Linked DNA regions of Homo sapiens: region 2 is linked to region 1. The links come from fine-mapping of genetic effects on gene expression. A gene starts in region 1. The other region holds a variant in brackets. All regions are shown on one strand. Distances are from middle to middle. Region 1 holds the start of BLVRA (biliverdin reductase A). Region 2 overlaps BLVRA (biliverdin reductase A).

Region 1 (9,640 bases):
TGACTCTTGGTGAGTCTATCACCCAGGTGGAGGGAAAAAATGTGGGTGTGCCATCCTAAAGCTGTGGGTAATTGGCATGAGTTAGCACATTTTGCAGAAGAAAAATAAAATACTGGTCAACAAAAGGAGTCAATTAAAAAAACCCACTGCAGATTACAGAGGAAGCCAATAGGGGTGGAGAGGTAAATGATGAAACAGATAGTTGAATCATTTTTCTGGTAAACATTTTAAATAGCATTTTAGATCACTGCTTCCTTTTTCAAAAACAAGGAAGATTTTCCTGGGCAGTCTTTTCTGAGGAAGGAGGAGTTCCTCCAAATCTTTTTTTTTTTTTTTTTTTTGAGACAAAGTTTCACTCTTTTTGCCCAGACTGGAGTGCAATGGTGCGACCTCAGCTCACTGCAACCTCCACCTCCCAGTTTCAAGCAATTCTCCTGCCTCAGCCTCCCAAGTCCTGGGATTACAGGCATGTGCCACCATGTTTTCAAACCTCCCTCACCTGTACTTATAAATAAGTTCACATTTAGATTTATTCTCCTTTTTTTTTTCTGGATAATTATTTCTACCTGTACTTGCAGAACCTTACTCAGTGGCCCCCTCCCCTGGTGGTATCTCAGAGGATTTCATAAATAGGCTAATGCACGCTGAATACTGCACTGTCCTGCTTCTGCCTGAGATCCTTTCAAAACTGCAACATCTTGGTTGGGTGTGGTGGCTCACCCCTGTAACCTCAGCACTTTGGGAGGTCAAGGCAGAGGACCTCTTGAGTGCACGAGTTTCAGACTAGCGCAGGGAGTATAGCAAGGGCTTGTCTCTACAAAAAAATTTAAAAATTAGCTGGGTGTGGTGGCACGCACCTATAATCCTAGCTACTCAGGAGGTTCCACGGGAGGCAGAGGCTGCAGTGAGCTGAGATGAGCCACTGCACTCCAGCCTGGGTGACAGGGTGAGACACCGTCTCAGAAAAAAAAAAAAAAAAAAAAAGTTGAAGGGAGCTGGCTTGCCCCTTGCACCATGTAGGATGCATGAGAAGGCACCATCTTTGAAGCAGACTGAGCCCTCACCAGACACTGAATCTCCTAGCACCTTGGTCTTAGACTTCCCGGCCCCTAGAACTAAGAGCCATAAATTTCTGCTGTTTATAAATTACCCAGTCCAAGGTATTTGTTATAGTAGCCTGAATGGACTATGACAATACATGATGTCATTTTTTGGACTGTAGTGTTCATCAGCTCTTTGGAGATGACCATGCCAGACCTCTCTCCAGCAGTTCTCCCTGTGGGTACATGTACTGTGACTTCTTCCTCACCTCTACATATCTGGCATTCACCGCCAGCTTCCTGCCCTTCCAGGCAGCCTTACTGGACTGGATCCAAGGGCACTGTCTCCTGCATGGCCCATATCTGATCCATGGGAAACACAAATGCATCTTGGGACCCCTCGGCATGTGTGGGCTGACAGCCGACCACTGCATGCCTTTTTCAGGTGGGAGGTAAGTGACCAGAGAGTCTCCATGTGCACCAACATACCTAACAAGCTCCCCAAATGGCTGGAAGCCTGTAGGCATGAAGTGAAGGAAATGGGCTGCGGAAGCTTCCCTCAGTGGGGAGGAAGTAAACTCACAGCACAGCAAAAGCTCTGTCAGAGATTTCTTTTTTCTTTTTTTCTTTTTTTTTTTTTTTGAGACGGAGTCTCGCTCTGTTGCCCAGGCTGGAGCTCACTGCAAGCTCCGCCTCCCGGGTTCACGCCATTCTCCTGCCTCAGCCTCCCGAGTAGCTGGGACTACAGGCGCCCCCCACTACGTCTGACTAATTTTTTGTATTTTTAGTAGAGACGGGGTTTCTCCGTGTTAGCCAGGATGGTCTCGATCTCCTGATCTCGTGATCTGCCCGCCTCGGCCTCCCAAAGTGCTGGGATTACAAGTGTGAGCCACTGCGCCTGGCCTTTTCTTTTTCTTTGATACAGAGTCTCACTCGTCGCCCAGGCTGCAGTGCAATGGCATGATCTTGGCTCACTGCAACCTCTGCCTCCCAGGTTCAAGCAATTCTCCTGCCTCAACCTCCCGAGTAGCTGGGATTATGGGCACGTACCACCATGCCTGGCTAAATTTTTTTTTTTTATTTGTATTTTTAGTAGAGACGGGGTTTCACCACATTGGCCAGGCTGGTCCTGAACTCCTGACCTCAGGTGATCTGCCCACCTCGGCCTCCCAAAGTGCTGGGATTACAGGTGTGAGCCACCGCGCCTGCCCCTTTTTTTCTTTTTTTGAGACGGAGTCTCATTCTGTCGCCCAGGCTGGAGTGAGGTGGGGAGATCCCAGCTCACTATAACCTCTGCCTCTCAGATTCAAGCGATTCTCCTGCATCAGCCTCCTGAATAACTGGAACTACAGGTACGCTCCACTGTGCCTGGCTAATTTTTGTATTTCTAATGGAAACGGGGTTTCACCATGTTGCCCAGGCTGATCTCAAATTCCTGACCTCAAGTGATCTGCCTGCCTCGGCCTCCCAAAGTGCTGGGATTACAGGCATTAAGCCACCGCACCCGGCCTCTGTCAGAGATTTCTTCACCAAACCCTCCTTCCACTCTCCAATTCCTTCTTTTTATTTATTTATTTTATTTTATTTTTTACTTTTATTATTTTTTTAATTTTTTTTTTTTTAGATGGAGTCTCACTTTGTCTCCCAGGCTGTAGTGCAGTAGTGCTATCTTGGCTCACTGCAACCTCTGTCTCCCGGGTTCAAGTGATTCTCATGCCTCAGCCTCCCTCCCAGAGTAGCTGGGAGTATAGGCATATGCCACCATACCTGGCTAATTTTTGTATTTTTAGTAGAGACGGGGTCTTACCATGTTGCCCAGGCTGCGACCTGCCTGCCTGGGCCTCCCAAAGTGTTGCGATTACAGGTGGCTCCCGCCTGATTCTTTCTTACATCTTTGGAGATCTCTTCCTAGAATTTCACATTAGTATATCTTGTTGTCCTAATCAAAATCTATACTTTCATATCTTGTTACACATAGGAGAAAAAGAGCTAAGAGAATGACACAGAAATGGAGCTGGAGCCTTAATACACCTCCTAACTGTTAATCTGTTTGGGTGGGGTTTCTGTCACTTGTGGCCTACAGCAGTCTTACTGTCCCCCCAACCTCCCACAAAGTTCTTCAGGTTGAAGAGAGTCACTACTTTGTAGAATGGGAAGCTCTTACTCAAAAAAGTAGAAACTGAATACAAAACTAGACTTTAGAAGGATAAGATAAATAAATCAATGCATTCATAACACATCATTACAAGAAAGTGAGGGGGTTAGAGGTCTCATCTTTAAATTCTGCTCTCAAGGACATGGAGGGCCCCTCTCACAGGCTTTCCCAAAGCTCCTCTGGGTGTACTGGTCTGACTCAGCAAGTGAACATCTGTGGTTTTGCCTAGCCAGCATCCCTTCTCCTAGCAGCAGCACTCAGCATGTCCTTTTGGGGAATCACTCTTTTCTCTTGTGGTTTATTTAAAGTGACTGCACAATCAGACCCCAGAGTTTGGCTTATGTCCTAGGCCTTGCCAGTGAAAATATGGTACCTCATCAGTGGCAGTTATTTTTCCGAGAAAGGACATATCATGACCCAAGGGGCAGCAGCAGGGAGGGGTGGATGGAAGAGACAGATAACAAACAATAAGCTAAATAAACAAATTCAGTCAGGAGCTAAAGAAATAAGTCATTCAGGAGTGGGGCAGGTGGCAATTTCAAATGGAGTGGTTAGGGTAGTTCTCAATGAGGCAGCATTTGAGAAAATATCAGGAAGAGTGAGAAGTAGTCGAGCATTCCAAACAGACAGGAGCCTGTGCAAAGACCCTGCAGCAGAGCCCTGTCTGCCTTGCATAAGAAATAGCAGGGAGGCCAGAGTGACTGGAGCAGAGTGAGCCAGTGGGGAGGCAGTAGCAGATGAGGTTGTAGGGGTAACAGAGGAGCAGATCAGGCAGGGCTTTGGGTTTTACTCTGAGTTTGGGAAACCACTGGGAAGGTTTTGGGCAGAGGAGGAATTTGATCTGGCTTTCTTTTTTTAAGGTCACTCTGGCTGCTTTATGGGGACAGGCTGCAGGGATATCAGGGAAGAGACCACTGTCATGACCCAGGTAGCAGATGATGGAGGCAGAGGTAAGAAGTGGTCAGGCTCTGGGTATGCTAGGGAGATCCAACCAACAGAATTTTTGGGCCCTGGAGGTGGGATGTGAGAGAAAGGTTTCTGAAACAGCAAGGTTTCTGGCCTTGACAACTGGAAGATGGAGTTGCCATCGAGATGGTGATGCTATGGGGAAGAGATCAGGGGCACAGATTTGGATGTGTTGAGATTGAAATGTATTTTAGAGATCCAAGAGGAGGTATTAAGGAGGCAGCTGGATAGAGGAGTATGGAGTTCAGGAGGCAGGTCCCGCCTGGAGATAAAAATTCAAAGCCAAGCCTTCTCTCTTTGCACTCAACAAAACCTCACTTAAACAGGCTTGTCAGGTCATGGAATACGGTACTAGAACTCTTTGTTGGGGAAAATGCCAGTCAACCTTACCCGTCAGAACGCTGCCTTTAAGATCAGAGATCTCTTTCCTTCAGCCTAATCCACCCCTCTCCCTGTTTTCTCCCCTAGCCCCACTAGGCTAGAAGCTCCCTGGCTTCTCCCACATCAGGATCCCCAACAAACCCATTCCCAGGTGGATAAGAGCCCAGGCAGTTCCCTAGACCACGTTCACTACTTCCTAGCTACCCAAGAGCAGGACATCGCAGACACCGGCCTCCTGGAATATTCCCTCCGCTCCTCACATTTACAGGAAGGACTCAGGTAAGCCTCGGCGCCAGTTCAGTCGGCCCGGGGCCACTAAATACCAATGGGATCCAGTGGGTTCTACGTGGTGAGTGGGGGGCGGATAAGAGAGATGCGACACCCCCCGGGCCTGCCCCCCCCACGCCGGGGCCAGGCACACCGTGAGGGGGCCAGGCACACCGTGAGGGGGCCCAGCCACTTCCATACGCCCTCCGGTCGGCCGGCACCCACCACCCACCCCTCGCCACCAAGCTGGGTGCAGAGAACAGGGCAGGCGCACGGACGGTTCTTACGGCCCCAGGCGCCAGACCCAGGGCACAGAGGCCAGGATCTCACGCGCGACCGCACGAGGCCGGGACCCTCCCTCCCCTTCCGTCCACTCCCTTCCCCACCGCCTCCGGTCCCCTCCCGGTCTCCGCCACCCCGCTTCGGGGCCCCCGCCCCCCAGCCGGGCAGCCAATCGGAGCTGGGATCCCGCCCCGGTCCGCAAAGCCGGTGGCGCCCGGAGGCTGCACGGAGAGCGGTGCCCGCGTCAGGTGAGGCGCGCGCGGGGAACGGGGGTCGCGCGCAGGGGAGCGGGGGTCGCGCGCGGCTTCCATAGAGCGCTAGGGCCTGAGCTCGAAGCCCCAGGCCCGCAGGAGGCCCGGGCCCGCGGCCGCCAGAGCCGGGACGCAGCCTGGGCGCCGCCTGCCCCGCCCCGCCCCGCCCGGGCCCGGAGTGAGGACGCGGTCGGAGGCCCAGCAGCGCGGGTCCCGGCAAGGGGCTTTCTCAACTACACAAAAGACAGTCTAAAAAATTAAGTCTCCATTTCGGTTAAGACTGCCCGTAGTTTCGGTTTTTATGTAGACCCAAGAGGGCAGGCTCGGCGTCCGCGTGCCGCGTAGTCCGGCGGCTCCAGGAGCGCGAGCGGCTGGGCCCGGGCGTAGCCACCGCAGGGCCGCTAGCTCGGCCGGGACCCGCCTGGGATGCCCTGGGGTCTGCTCCGCTGGGGCGAATCCTGAGGCGCCACGCGAGGCACTTGGCCTCTCCTAGCCCCGCTTTCGTTTTTGGAAACTGGAAACTATCACTTATTTCGTAGACGGTGTGAGGGTTACATGACAGTGTTCTGTAAAGTGCACTCTACATATGAAGTGCTCAGAAATATGGCTAATAATGAGGGTATTTATAAACTACTTAAATTATAAAAAGAATGAGACATCAGACTTACAGTTTTGGATACTAATTTTTTTCACTTAACGTTCATTATGTGATAGGAGTTTTCCATCCTATTATACCGCTGTGCGATCTGATCTTGGGCACGTTAACCAACCTCTTGTTGCCTCGATTTTCTCACCTGTAAAAGTGGGGGTAATCATAATGCTTACTTAGTAGGATAGCCCTGAAGAATAAGTGACTTAGCGAACATAAATAGCTTACAATAGGGTTTTCAGCATGGGAAGGATTCAGTAAATGTTAGCTGTCATCATCACCACCTACAAAGGAAGCAATACTGTGCTGAAAGTTTTTCCATCATTAATGTAATTTCTATAGTACGATTCCCAAGAAGATATTAAAATTATGGAAATAAAGGTATTGGTATATTCCTAATTATTTCCTAAAAGATTGTATTGATAAATATGCTCATCCTTCCCTTAACGGGATGCATTCCAGAAAAACAAGTCAAATGTTAGACAAAGTATCAGAAGGGAAATTCTGTAGCCAGAGAGCTAAAAATTACAATAGGGTCTCTAATTATACTTCAACTTTTTTAGGAATAATTCTCAGTGTGTTTTCCCACATTTCATATGTAATTTTTTTTTTTTTTTTTTTTTGAGACAGAGCCTCGCCCTGTCACCAGGCTGGAGTACAGTGGCGCGATCTCGGCTCACTGCAACTTCCACCTGCTGGGTTCAAGCAATTCTTCTGACCTCAGGTGATCCACCCGCCTCGGCCTCCCAAAGTGCTGGGATTATAACAGGCGTGGCATGAGTCACCGCGCCCGGCCGATCTTTACTTTTTTATTCTTTGTACCCCCTGCCTATCCAGTTAGCATGTGATTAAAGTCAAAGATTTGCCACTTTGGGCCACATCTATTAATTTTCATCTTTGTTATAATTGTATTTAGTTTTTGATCTACACTGCTTATTACTCCCAGTCATTTTTTCTAGAACTGAAAATCTGGTAAAATACTCAAAATTGCACTGACTTCTATGTAGAGGCGACACTCCATCAGAACCGTGGGCTGACAGGGAATCCCACTGTGCAGGAGCTGCGCGCATTTTCATTTCTGATTCTCTTTGGCGTATCCAGGACTCTGATGACATGATCATATATTTATCAGTAGTAACAGGTTGGGCCATTTGTTTTTTGTGGTAAATCATATATTTAAGATTTTAGAAATAAGTTGATAGCCATGTATTTTGGAATTTGAAAAAGACATTGCATTACTCAGCTTCAAATTAAGCTTTAATCAAATAGTGAAACTTTCCATTAATGGACAGTGTATACCTTTTTGTGTATTTAAAAAAAAAAACACTGAATATAGTGCCTTTGTGACAGGGGAGCTTAGTTCCTGACAATGTCCTCTTGAGTCTTTTTTTTTTTTTTTTGAGATGGAGTCTCACTGTGTCGCCCAGGCTGGAGTGCAGTGGCGCCATCTTGGCTCACTGCAACCTCCGCCCCCTGGGTTCAAGTGATTCTCATTCCTCAGCTTCCTAAGTAGCTGGGATTACAGGCACGCACCACCATGACCAGCTAATTTTTATACTTTTAGTAGAGACAGGGTTTTGCCATGTTGGCTAGGTTGGTCTCGAACTCCTGACCTCAAGTAATCCACCCACCATGGCCTCCCCAAAGTGCTGGGATTACAGGCGTGAGCCATTTCACCCGGCCTCTCTTCCGTCTTTGAGCTGTGAGGAAATAGCTACATTACATGAGCTGCTAGATCTGCCTTATGGTCAGAAATGAAGGTTGAACTCTCAGGAACAGTGACATATATACACACTGATATTTCCAAAGTACAATGCCCCAAATTGATCCACAAAGGAATTAAGGTCATTTGCAACAAAATCACAGAATAGTAACAAATAAATAGAAGATAAATATGGCCAGGAATTGAGATGAGAGAAAGTATAAGTACAAGAAACTATTCCAGGGGAAAAAAAGAATGAAGTGTTTCAGTGTTATCCAATAGAATTTTCTGTGATTATGAAAATGTGCTATATTTAATTAATTTATATTCCAATAGCCACTCTGTGTAGCGGCTCCCTTATAGGTCATTGCAGGCCTATATTTTTGTAGTTGAGTCCCAAATTTGTTTCTAGAAAGGTAAACTTGGTCAGTTACATGGTTCTTGTCTTTTGAAAGTAAAACATACATGGCAACTTCATTCATTCATTCATTCATTGATCCCCCAAATGTTAATGGCCTTGAAGGAAGCAGAGCCTTTCCTGATTCTCAGTTATAGGGAAAATTTTCTGTGGACTTCATTATCAGAGCACCTTGATATGTTATTGCCCTGTGAAAGTCTGTTCAGTTTGGGGCTAGGAGGGATGCAGTCAGTGAAAGTGGCATAGTTTGTAATGTTTTTTAGAGTTTTGAATAATTATGTTAACTAATCTTTATAGAAAAGTTTAAAGTGTACAGAGAAGCAAAAAGAAAGTAGTCACTAAAAGTTTCACCACTTAGAGACATAATTACTGGTAATATTTTGATGTATATATTTCCAGACTTGTGTCCCATGTAGCTATTATATTTTTCTCAATAGATCCCAAAGTATCCAACTCCCTCCAGGGCAAGAGTTGCTTTTACCTTTACCCTTAGACCTCTGAGGCTGGCAGCTGGCCCCACCTGAGAGGGTCACCCTCTCCCTAATCCTTCCCCATACTTCTGTGAGTCACCTGGCTTTGGGGCAATAATAGATACTTGAGAGGGCGTTTGAGGAGGAACAAGGAGGAAGGTCACAGCTGTAGTTCATTCTGCATGATGTGTAATCCAGGCTTTTTCAACTCTGGCACTGTTGACATTTTGGGCTGGATAATTCTTTGTGTATGTGTAGTTGGGGTAGGAAGGTGTCCTGTGCATCACAGGATGTTTTGCAGCATCCCTGGCCTTTCCCTACTAGATGCCAATGGCACATACCCTTTTCCCCCCGAGTACAACAATCAGAAATGTTGGTGAGAAATACTGGGTTAATGAAAATCACTAATTTATTGCTGACAAAGCTCTGGAGTTTCAGATTCCAATTTGCATGTGGGAAAGAGACTGAAATCAAAAGGGAAACATAATGTAAGCCAAGGAAGCTGTTTAGTCCTGGCTGTGCTATTAATTTACTGTGAGATTTTGCATCTCTCCCACGTGCAAATTGGAATGTGAAACTCTAGAGCTTTGTCAGCAATAATTTAGTGATTTCCATGAACCCAGTAGTTCCTTTTTTTTTTTTTTTTTTTTTTTAAGATGGAGTCTTGCTCTGTCACCCAGGCTGGAGTGCAGTGGGACGGTCTCGGCTCATTGCAACCTCCGCCTCCCAGGTTCGAGCAATTCTCCTGCCTCAGCCTCCCGAGTAGCTGGGACTACAGGTGCACGCCACCATACCCAGGTAATTTTTGTATTTTTAGTAGACATGGGGTTTCACCATGTTGGCCAGGATGGTCTCGATCTCTTGACCTCATGATCAGCCCCATGCCCGCCTCGGCCTCCCAAAGTGCTGGGATTACAGGCATGAGCCACCGTGCCCGGCCCTTAACCCAGTAGTTGTTACTGACATTTCTGATTGTCGTGCTGGGGGGAAAACGGTATGTGCCACTGGCATCTAGTGGGGAAAGGCCAGGGATGCTGCAAACTGATATACTGCCAAGTT
Region 2 (9,640 bases), 37 kb after region 1:
ACACACACACAAACATGTGTGCGTACATACTACTGGGCTTCGTTAGCTTAGCTATAAAGTAGCTCGAAGTCGCATGCCAGTTTGCACCCTAAATGTGTTAACGTATTGGATTTGGATTAGGTTTGGTAGTCACAATGTTTGGCCAAGTGCTTGGAACTGGAAGTGACCATAGAGATCACTTCTCATGAGATAAAAGTAGATTGTTCCTTTTATTTTTATGTTATTTTATTTTTGAGGAGTCTTGCTCTGTCACCCAGGCTGGAGTGCTGTGGTGCAATCTCGGCTCACTGCAACCTCCATCTCCCGGATTCAAGTGATTCTCCTGCCTCAGCCTCCCAGGTAGCTGGGATTACAGGCGCCCACCACCACATTTGGCTAACTTTTGTATTTTTTGTAGATACAGGTTTTCACCATGTTGGCCAGGCTGGTCTTGAACTCCTGACCTCAAGTGATCCACCCACCTCGGCCTCCCAAAGTGCTGGGATTATAGGCTTGAGCCACCGCGCCCAGCTGTTTCTTTTGTTTTGGAGATGAAGTAATTCAAGACTCTCCCAGGTCATACACGCTGTGAATGGTACTGTTGGCACTCAATGCCAGATCCCCTGACTTGAACTCTGAGGCTATTTTTCTCACTCCACAATGGAAAATAGCCTGGAAGTGGGAGAGAAGAAACTCATTTCTTCATTTCTGGCAGCAGATCACCAGGACCTGTCGGGAGGAGGGGAGAAGGATGGTGCTCCTTTCTTCTGTCTACCATTGAGTTCCATTTCTCTGTTACTCTGAAATAGAAGGGAGCTCGGGAGCATTGATGGAGTCCAGCAGATTTCTTTGGAGGATGCTCTTTCCAGCCAAGAGGTGGAGGTCGCCTATATCTGCAGTGAGAGCTCCAGCCATGAGGACTACATCAGGTGGGTTTTCCACACAGGCAGTCCTTGCCTTACACAGCAGTGCAGTACTGCAAAAATGAGCAAGCAAGCTAAAACACCCTGCAAAGGAGTCAGAAGAGCCAGTGAGAAAATTACAATTGCTCTGTGACCAATCACAGAAGTGTCAAAACATTAAGAAATTCTTATTGCTGGTTATAAATATATAAGGAAGTGAAAAATAGTAAAATTAATATTTAGTATGTGTAATTTGAAACATTAGAAACATTCAGAATTAAAGTGTTTTATTTCTCTGTAAAAACCCATCGAGAGTAGTTTTCAACAGTAGTGGCCTCCTTCTTCTCACCAGACAGTTTAGGATGTGGAGCCGGCATCCTTGGCAAATTATCATACTCCCTTCTCAGTTTGGATCAGCTTCCAACGTTTTCTCCTTTGTGCTTTCAATGTCATAAAATAACGGTTGAGTTCCTTTAACCCTCAGGACCTGGCAGCTAACAGGGAAGTGCCAGCTGCCTTCCTCAGTCTAGCTTCCTTCTAGGTTCTTACAGCTGCTCCCACCATGCTGTTTCCCACGGGTAAGATGCTTCCTCTTTATCAGTCTAGCTCTAGAGTAGACAAAAACACCTCTCCTTGGCTTTCCTTAACCTTTTCTGGCACCAGAGTGTATTTCCTTAAGAAAAGTGATTCTGACATAAGTCCCATGCTTATAAATATTTGTACTCTGGTATCCACAGAATGAAATCTGAACTGCTGAGCACAGAATTGTAGGTCCTTCACAGTCAGGCCCCCAGCTACTTTTCCAACGTTATTATCCTCCACGGCCTGTAGTCCACTCCCCTGCCACACTGAAGTTTGCCGATTGAACAAAGCCCCACAAATGCCCAAGCCCCTGCATACGCTGCTCACAGTGAAATATACTCACATGTTGCACCTGGAAAATGTCTGCTCATACTTTGAGACCCAGTTCATAGGTCCTTAGTGAAATCTTTTCAGACTGCCTCAGGCAAAGCTAGCCGCTGTGGGTTTTGTAGCCTTTATAGCTACCATGTGGTGATAGGAAATTTATTTGTTAATGTGTCTTTATTTCTCCTCCACAGTAATTGGTAAATAGTACTTAGTTGAATAAATGAATGGTTGAATGTTCAAATTAACACATAACCAGAAAGTTGATCTGTCACAGGATAGTAGAAAACAATGTGGGATACAGTTCTTCCTCCATATCCCGTGGCACTGACTCCTACCCCCAGTCATGACACATTCACACACAGAAACTCTCATGCCTTTATAACATTCTGTTCTCTATTATGCAGAGCATTTCAGTGAAGCTTATTCGAAGTGTTCTTTCTCTGTATTTGTCTCGTTTACCAAAGGCAGTTCCTTAATGCTGGCAAGCACGTCCTTGTGGAATACCCCATGACACTGTCATTGGCGGCCGCTCAGGAACTGTGGGAGCTGGCTGAGCAGAAAGGTAATGTATCTTACCAAGAGTTTCTGCCTCCAGGATTTCTGTGATATCATCTTTATGCCTTTAAAACTTAACCCCATTTCAGATATCTCCTCCTCCTGGCTACACTGGCACTGTGGGCTCCCAACTGCCTCCTCACCCCCACACTGTAAACACAGATAGTGGAGGGCAGAAGGATGGGTGGGAATTTGCAAACTTTTGGTCAAAGCTTATCAGCTTATTTTACTCACTCTAAGGAAAAAATATGAATTAGTTTTCACCTATGCTTATGTCATGATATTATTTTGGCTTTATTCATGTGATACTTATATTGCTAAATGCTGGGATATCCTAAAAATGCTCAAATCAGAGAAACTGATTGTCTTATTTGCATAGTTTGTAGTTTTTGTTGTTTCTAAACAGGAATAACCATTTATTAAATATTTAGTATATGCTAGGAACTTGGAAACTCTGCTAAGCACTTCATATGTTATTTTGCTTAATTCTTCTAGAATCCCTTGGAGGTATATATTTTCTCTAGATGCTGTATAGAAAAATATGGCTCAAAGAAGTTAATTTGTGCCAGGTCACAAAGCTAATAACATGACTACTAAGTGGGAGGTAGAGATTTTAATCAAATCCTACAGGGCTCTTAAGTTCACATTTGTTCCCCTAAGCCATACCACCCTCCAGAAGGGAGAAATTAAGACTTTCCCAGGCCAGACGCAGTGGCTCATGCCCTGTCAGCCCAGCACTTTGGGAGGCCAAGGAGCTTGGGACAACCCTGGGCAACATAATGAGACCCTGTTTCTACAAAAATCTTTTACAACTTTTTTTTTTTTTTTTTTGGTGGGGTACAGAGTCTTGCTGTGTCACCCAGGCTGGAGTTCAATGGCACCATCTCAGCTCACTGCAACCTCCGCCTCCTGGGTTCAAGGGATTCTCCTTCCTCAGCCTCCTGAGTAGCTAGGATTACAGGCGCCCACCACCATGCCCAGCTAATTTTTGTATTTTTAGTAGAGATGGGGTTTCACGATGTTGGACACAATGGTCTCAAACTCCTGACCTCGCGATCCACCCACCTCGGCCTCCCAAAGTGCTGGGATTACAGGCATGAGTGACCGTGCCCGGCATACAAAATTTTTAATTACAAGAAAAAAAAAAAAAGACTCAGCTGGGCACAGTGGCTCACACCTGTAATCCCAGCACTTTAGGAGGCTCTGATGGATAGATTATTTGAGCCCAGGAGTTTGAGACCAGCCTGGGCAACATGGTGAAACCCCATCTCTACTGAAAATACAAAAATTAACTGGGTGTGGTGGTGCATACCGGTAGTCCCAGCTACTTGGAAGTTCACCTGAACCTTAGGAGGTTGAGGCTGCACTGAACCATGATCGGGCCACTGCACTCTAGTCTGGGCAACAGAGTGAGACCCTGTCTCAAAAATAAAAATAAAAATTCTTTAAAAGACCTACCCAGACAAACAAAAACCAAGTGAGTTGATCACTACTAGACCTGCCCTACAGGAAATGCTAAAGGAAGTCTTTCAAGTTAAAGTGAAAACACTAGACAGCAACACAAAAATATTGCTCTCTGGTAAAGGTAAATATATAGACAAATACAGACTTCCGTAGTATTGTAATGTTGACATATAAATCACTTTAGGCCAGGCACGGTGGCTCAAGCCTGTAATCCCAGGACTTGGGGAGGCCGAGGCAAGCAGATCATTTGAGGTCAGGAGTTCAAGACCATCCTGGCCAACATGGTGAAACCCCATCTCTACTAAAAATAAAAAAATTAGCTGGGCGTGGTGGCGCTTGCCTGTAGTCCCAGCTACTCAGGAGGCTGAGGCAGCAGAATTGCTTGAACCTGGGAGGCGGAGGTTGCAGTGAGCTGAGATGGTGCCACTGCACTCCAGCCTGGGTAACACCATGAAACTCTATCTCTAAATAAATAAATATCACTTTAAATCCTGGCATAGAATTTAAAAGACAAAAAAATACAAACTATGTTAATGGATGTATAGTATAAAAAGATGTAATTGGTAACATTAATAGCAAAATGGGGGGTCAGAGATATAAAGGAGTAGAATTTTGTATGTGATTGAGTTAAGTTGTTAGCAGTTTAAAATAGATTATGCAGTCGGGTGTGGTGGCTCATGCCTGTCATCCCAGCACTTTGGGAAGCCGAGGCTGGTGGATCACCTGAAGTCAGGATTTCAAGAGGAGCCTGGGCAACATGGTGAAACTCCGTCTCTACTAATAATACAAAAATTAGCTGGGCCTGGTGGCACGTGCCTGTAATCCCAGCTACTCCAGAGGCTAAGGCACGAGAATCGCTTGAACCCAGGAGGTGGAGGTTGCAGTGAGCCAAGATTGTGGCATTGCACTTTAGCCTGGGCGACACAGTGAGACTCCATCTCAGAAATTAAATACATACATAAATAAATAATAAAAATAGATTGTGCCTGTAATCCCAGCACTTTGGGAGGCTGAGGCGGGCGAATCACCTGAGGTCAGGATTTCAAGACCAGCCTAGCCAACATGGTGAAACCCCATCTCTACTAAAAATACAAAAATTAGCCAGGTGTGGTGGCGCGCACATATAGTCCCAGCTACTGGGGAGGCTGAGGCAGGAGAATTGCTTAAACCCAGGAGGCAGAGGTTGCAGTGAGGGAGATCGCACCACTGCACTCCAGCCTGGGCGATGGAGTGAGACTCTGCTCAAACAAAACAAAACAATACAAAACTGACAAGATGTAATGAAAGCAGTACTAAGAGAGAAGTGGATAGTTGTAAATGCTTACATTAAACAAGAAGAAAGATCTCAATTCAACATCCTAACTTTACATTTCAAGGGACTAGGAAAAGAAGAGCAAACTCAATCGAAAATTAGCAGAAAAAAGCAAGTAAAGATTAGAACATAAATAAAATAGAGAGTAGAAAAGCAATAGAAAAAAATCAACAAAACCAAGTTTTTTTGAAAAAAATCCATAAAATTGACAGAATTTTAGCAGATTAAGAAAAAAAAGAGTCGGCCGGGTGCAGTGGCTCACGCCTGTAATCCCAGCATTTTGGGAGGCCAAGGAGGACAGATCACAAGGTCAAGAGTCCAAGACCTGCCTGGCCAAAATAGTGCAACCCCATCTCTACTAAAAATACAAAAATTAGCCAGGCATGGTGGCACATGCCTATAGTCCCAGCTACTCGGGAGGCTGAG[A/G]CAGGAGAATCACTTGAACCCAGGAGGTGGAGGTTGTGCTGAGGGGAGGTTGTGGTGAGCCGAGATTGCACCACTGTACTCCATCCTGGGCAACAGAGCGAGACTCTGTCTCACAAAAAAAAAAAAAAAAGAAAAGAAAAGAAAAGAAAAAAAGAGTAAAGACTCAAACTAAAGTCAGAAGTGAAAGAGGAGACATTACAACAAATGCTGCTGAAATAAAAAGGATTATATGAGACTACAATGAACACTTATACAATTGTTATACTCCAACAATCGGATAATCTAGAAAGGGATAAATACCTAGTAGCATATAACCTACTAAGACTGAATCATGAAGAAACAAAAATCTGAACAGATTTATAACTAGTAAGGAGATTGAACCAGTAATTAAACACCTCCCAATAAAGAAAAGCCTAAAACCAGATGGCTTCACTGGAGAATTCTACCAAGTGTTTCAGTCTCTTCAAAAAGTGGTCCCAGGAAAACAGGATATCCACATGCAAAAGAATGAAGTTGGACACTTACCTTACACCATATAAAAAATTCACTCAAATGGATTAAAGAACTAAATTTAAGACCTAAAACTGTAATATTGTTAGAAGAAAACATGGGAAAGCATCAAGATATTGGATTTGGCAATAATGTCTTACATACGACATCAAAAACACAGGCAAAAAAAGCAAAAAACAGACAAATGGACTAATCAAACTTAAAACCTTCTGTGCCTCAAAGGAAGCAATCAACTGAGTGAAAAAGCAGTCTATGTAATGGGTGAAGATATCTGCAAATCTTATCTTTGATAAGAGATCAATATCCAGAATGTCTAAAGAACTCTACAACTCAACAACAAACAAACCAAATAAACTGATTTTAAAATGGGCAAAGGACTTGGATAGACATTTTTCTGAAGAAGTTATTCAGACGGCAAACAATCATATGAAAAGATGCTCAATACCACTAATCCTTATAGAAAATGCAAATCAAATCCACAGCCACCGTCAGTAACCACCAGCATCAGTCAGCAGCCATCAACATGGAAGCAAGACCTTCCTTCAGCAAAAAGATGGAGGATCAGATGGTAGCATTTTTTGTTTGTTTTTGTTTTTTGGTTTTTTAAGACAGTCTCGCCCTGTTACCTAGGCTTGAACGCAGTGGCGCAAACCTCCGCCTCCTGGGTTCAAGTGATTCTTGTGCCTCAGCCACCTGAGTAACTGGGATTATAGGTGCACACCACCACACACAGCTAATTTTTGTATTTTTAGCAGAGATGGGGTTTCGCCATGTTGGCCAGGCTGGTCTTGAACTCCTGGCCTCAAGTGATCCGCCTGCCTGAGCCTCCCAAAGTGCTGGAATTACAGGCATGGGCCAACATGCCCAGCTCAATAACGTATTTTTAAATTAAGGTACGTACGTTGTTTTCCTAAACATAGTGTTATCACATACTTAACAAACTACAATATAGTATAAACATAACTTGTGTATGAACCGGGAAACTAAAATATTCATGTGACTCCCTTTATTGCAATATTCACTTTATTGTGGTGGTCTGGAATGAAACCTGCAGGATCTCTGAGGTATGCATGTAACCGCATACAACCATCAAAATCTGGAAATTGGCATTGGTACATTACAACAATCTAATCCTCAAACCTCATTCAAATTTCACCAGTTGTCCCAATAACATTCTTTATGGCAAAATGACTGAGTTCAAAATCATGTATTATCTTTTATTGACATGTCACTTTTAGTGTCCTTCATTCTGGACAGTTCCTCCATCTTTTCTTGACAATTATGAATATTACAGTTAGTTATTGTGTAAAATGTCCCTAAATTTGAATATATCTGATGTTTCTTCATGATTAGATTTGGGGTATGCATCTTTCACAGAAATAGTATGCAAGTGGCCAGGCATGGTGGCTCACACCTGTAATCCTAGCACTTTGGGAGGCCAAGGCAGGCAGATTACTTGAGGTCAGGAGTTCAAAACCAGCCTGGCCTACACTGTGAAACCCCGTCTCTACTGAAAATATCAAAAAAATTAGCCAGGCATGATGTGGGCACCTGTAATTCCAGCTACTCGGGAGGCTGAGGCAGGAGAATTTCTTGAACCCGGGAGGCACAGTTTGCAGTGAGACGAGATCGCACCACTATACTCCAGCCTGGGTGACAGAGGGAGACTCCCCATCTCACAAAAAAAAAAAAAAAAAAAAAAAAAAAAAGGAAACGATGCTGTTTTTCACATTGTGTTCTGTCAGGTAACATCCAATATCAGTTCATCTAATTACTAATGATATCACTTCATTAGGTGGTGTCTGACGGGCTTTTCCACTGAAAGTTACTTTTTTTCCCTTTGTAATCAGTGATTATTTTGTGAGAAGGTAGTTTATAACTAGTTAAATATCCATTCTCATCACACTGTCTGATATTCATTTATTATTTTATATCAGTAGAAACTCATAGCTTTGTTTTGTTTTTCTATTCAGTGCTGTTGTTACTTTTTATTATTCATATTGATGTCCACATTGTTCCAAATTTGCTCAGTGGGGAACCTCTTCCTGCCAGCTCCCTTGTCATTTTGTTATGTTTCCATTATTCTTTGAATTCTTGCTTTCTGGCACAAAGTGGTTAAGGCTCATCTTGTACTTTCTCTGCCTCAGCCTTGGAATTAGTCAGTTCTCCAATGGCTAATAACGTTTTGATGGCAAGATTTGGACACTGCTTGTGCTTATGGCTTTGGGCTATCTCTGCAAGCCCTTTCAGTGAACAGACCTGGGAATATATGGATACGGATGTGTGTGTGTACTGTGGTTACCATGTGTGTTTATCACAATCAGGCATTGAGTGAACGACAGGAAAACAACAAAAGACACAGCTGGAAAATACATAGTTTCTTTAATAACCATGGATGTGGAAACACAGAGACTGTTACATAGTGCTGGGGAAAATATAACATGTTCCCCAGAGTTTCACGGTGGGGTGGGGGGCAGTGGGCGAAACTACCTGTGAGGAGAAAAGCTTGTACTTATTGCAAAGCATTTTGTGCCATTTAGTTGTTGCAAAGCCATTTTGTGCCAGAAAGCTTCTACTTATCACAAGAAGTTCCTTTTGCCACATTCACGTCTGAAGGAGTGGGTGGGAAGGACCCCATCCTCCCACACACCTGACATTTCTGGAGACTCCTGCGACAGACATCCTCCTTGCTCCTGAGGTGCAGGTCAAGCCCAGAGCATTTGGCAGTATTTGCTGTGATGCTGGGTTAGACAAAGGCAACCGTCCCAGGAGCATCTCCCACTGACCCAGATTTCTGTCTGTTTCAGTGAAACTGTAGATCATAACCACACTTTGTACTTAATCACAAAATAGTTCTGGTGTTTTAGGAAGCTTTTGGCCTAGAAATGAAAAAATTTTTATAGAGCGAAAAAATTTTATATAGCAAAAAAATTGTTAACAGCTTTCTTTTATAATCCAAAATTTATTTTATTTTATTTTTATTTTTATTTTTTGAGATGGGCTGCAGTGCACTGGTACGATCTTGGCTAACTGCAACCTCCACCTCCCAGGTTCAAGTGATCTTCCCAGCTCAGCCTCCCAAGTAGCTGGGACCACAGGTGCATGCCACCACACCTAGCTAATTTTTTGTATTTTTTGTAGAGGCCAGGTTTTGCCATGTTGCCCAGGCTGGTCTCAAACTCCTGAGCTTAGGCAATCCACTTGCCTTGGCCTCCCAAAGTGCTGGGATTATAGGCATGAGCCACCAAGCCTGGGCACGTTCTTACTCTGTTAGATTTTTATGCTGCACTGCCTCCTCCTGTCTAGAACAGTAGCTAACTGTCTCCTGGCCCACAGACACATCCCTGATCTCATCTTGCCTTTGGACACAGGTAGATACCATCTTGTTCTCTTAAATTTTCATTTCATTTCTCAGGTTTTCGTTTCATTCATTTCTCTTTTTTTCTTTTTCTTTTTGAAACGGAGTCTCACTCTGTCGCCCAGGCTGGAGTGCAGTGATGCAATCTTGGCCCACTGCAATTTCTGCCTCCCAGGTTCTAGTGATTCTCCTGCCTCAGCCTCCCAAGAAGGTGGGCTTACAGGT

The links. PIP is the estimated chance that this variant, and not a neighbour inherited with it, causes the effect.
Region 2: its variant is the best candidate, but not a certain one, in a credible set for the expression of BLVRA in cerebellar hemisphere (GTEx, PIP 0.87).

What each region holds. Positions count from the first base shown.
Region 1 is chr7:43,753,396-43,763,035 of GRCh38, forward strand. It overlaps BLVRA (biliverdin reductase A), which reads left to right and starts at 5,285. Exons shown (of 8, transcript NM_000712.4): 1 at 5,285-5,339. It also overlaps the pseudogene LOC107986727. RefSeq lists a cis regulatory region at 3,201-3,968 and silencers at 4,990-5,379, 5,390-5,709.
Region 2 is chr7:43,790,461-43,800,100 of GRCh38, forward strand. BLVRA (biliverdin reductase A) reads left to right here. Exons shown (of 8, transcript NM_000712.4): 4 at 789-908; 5 at 2,255-2,352. Among named protein-coding and RNA genes, the nearest start is that of BLVRA, 37 kb to the left of the region's middle. The variant A/G (reference allele first, on the strand shown) is at 5,548.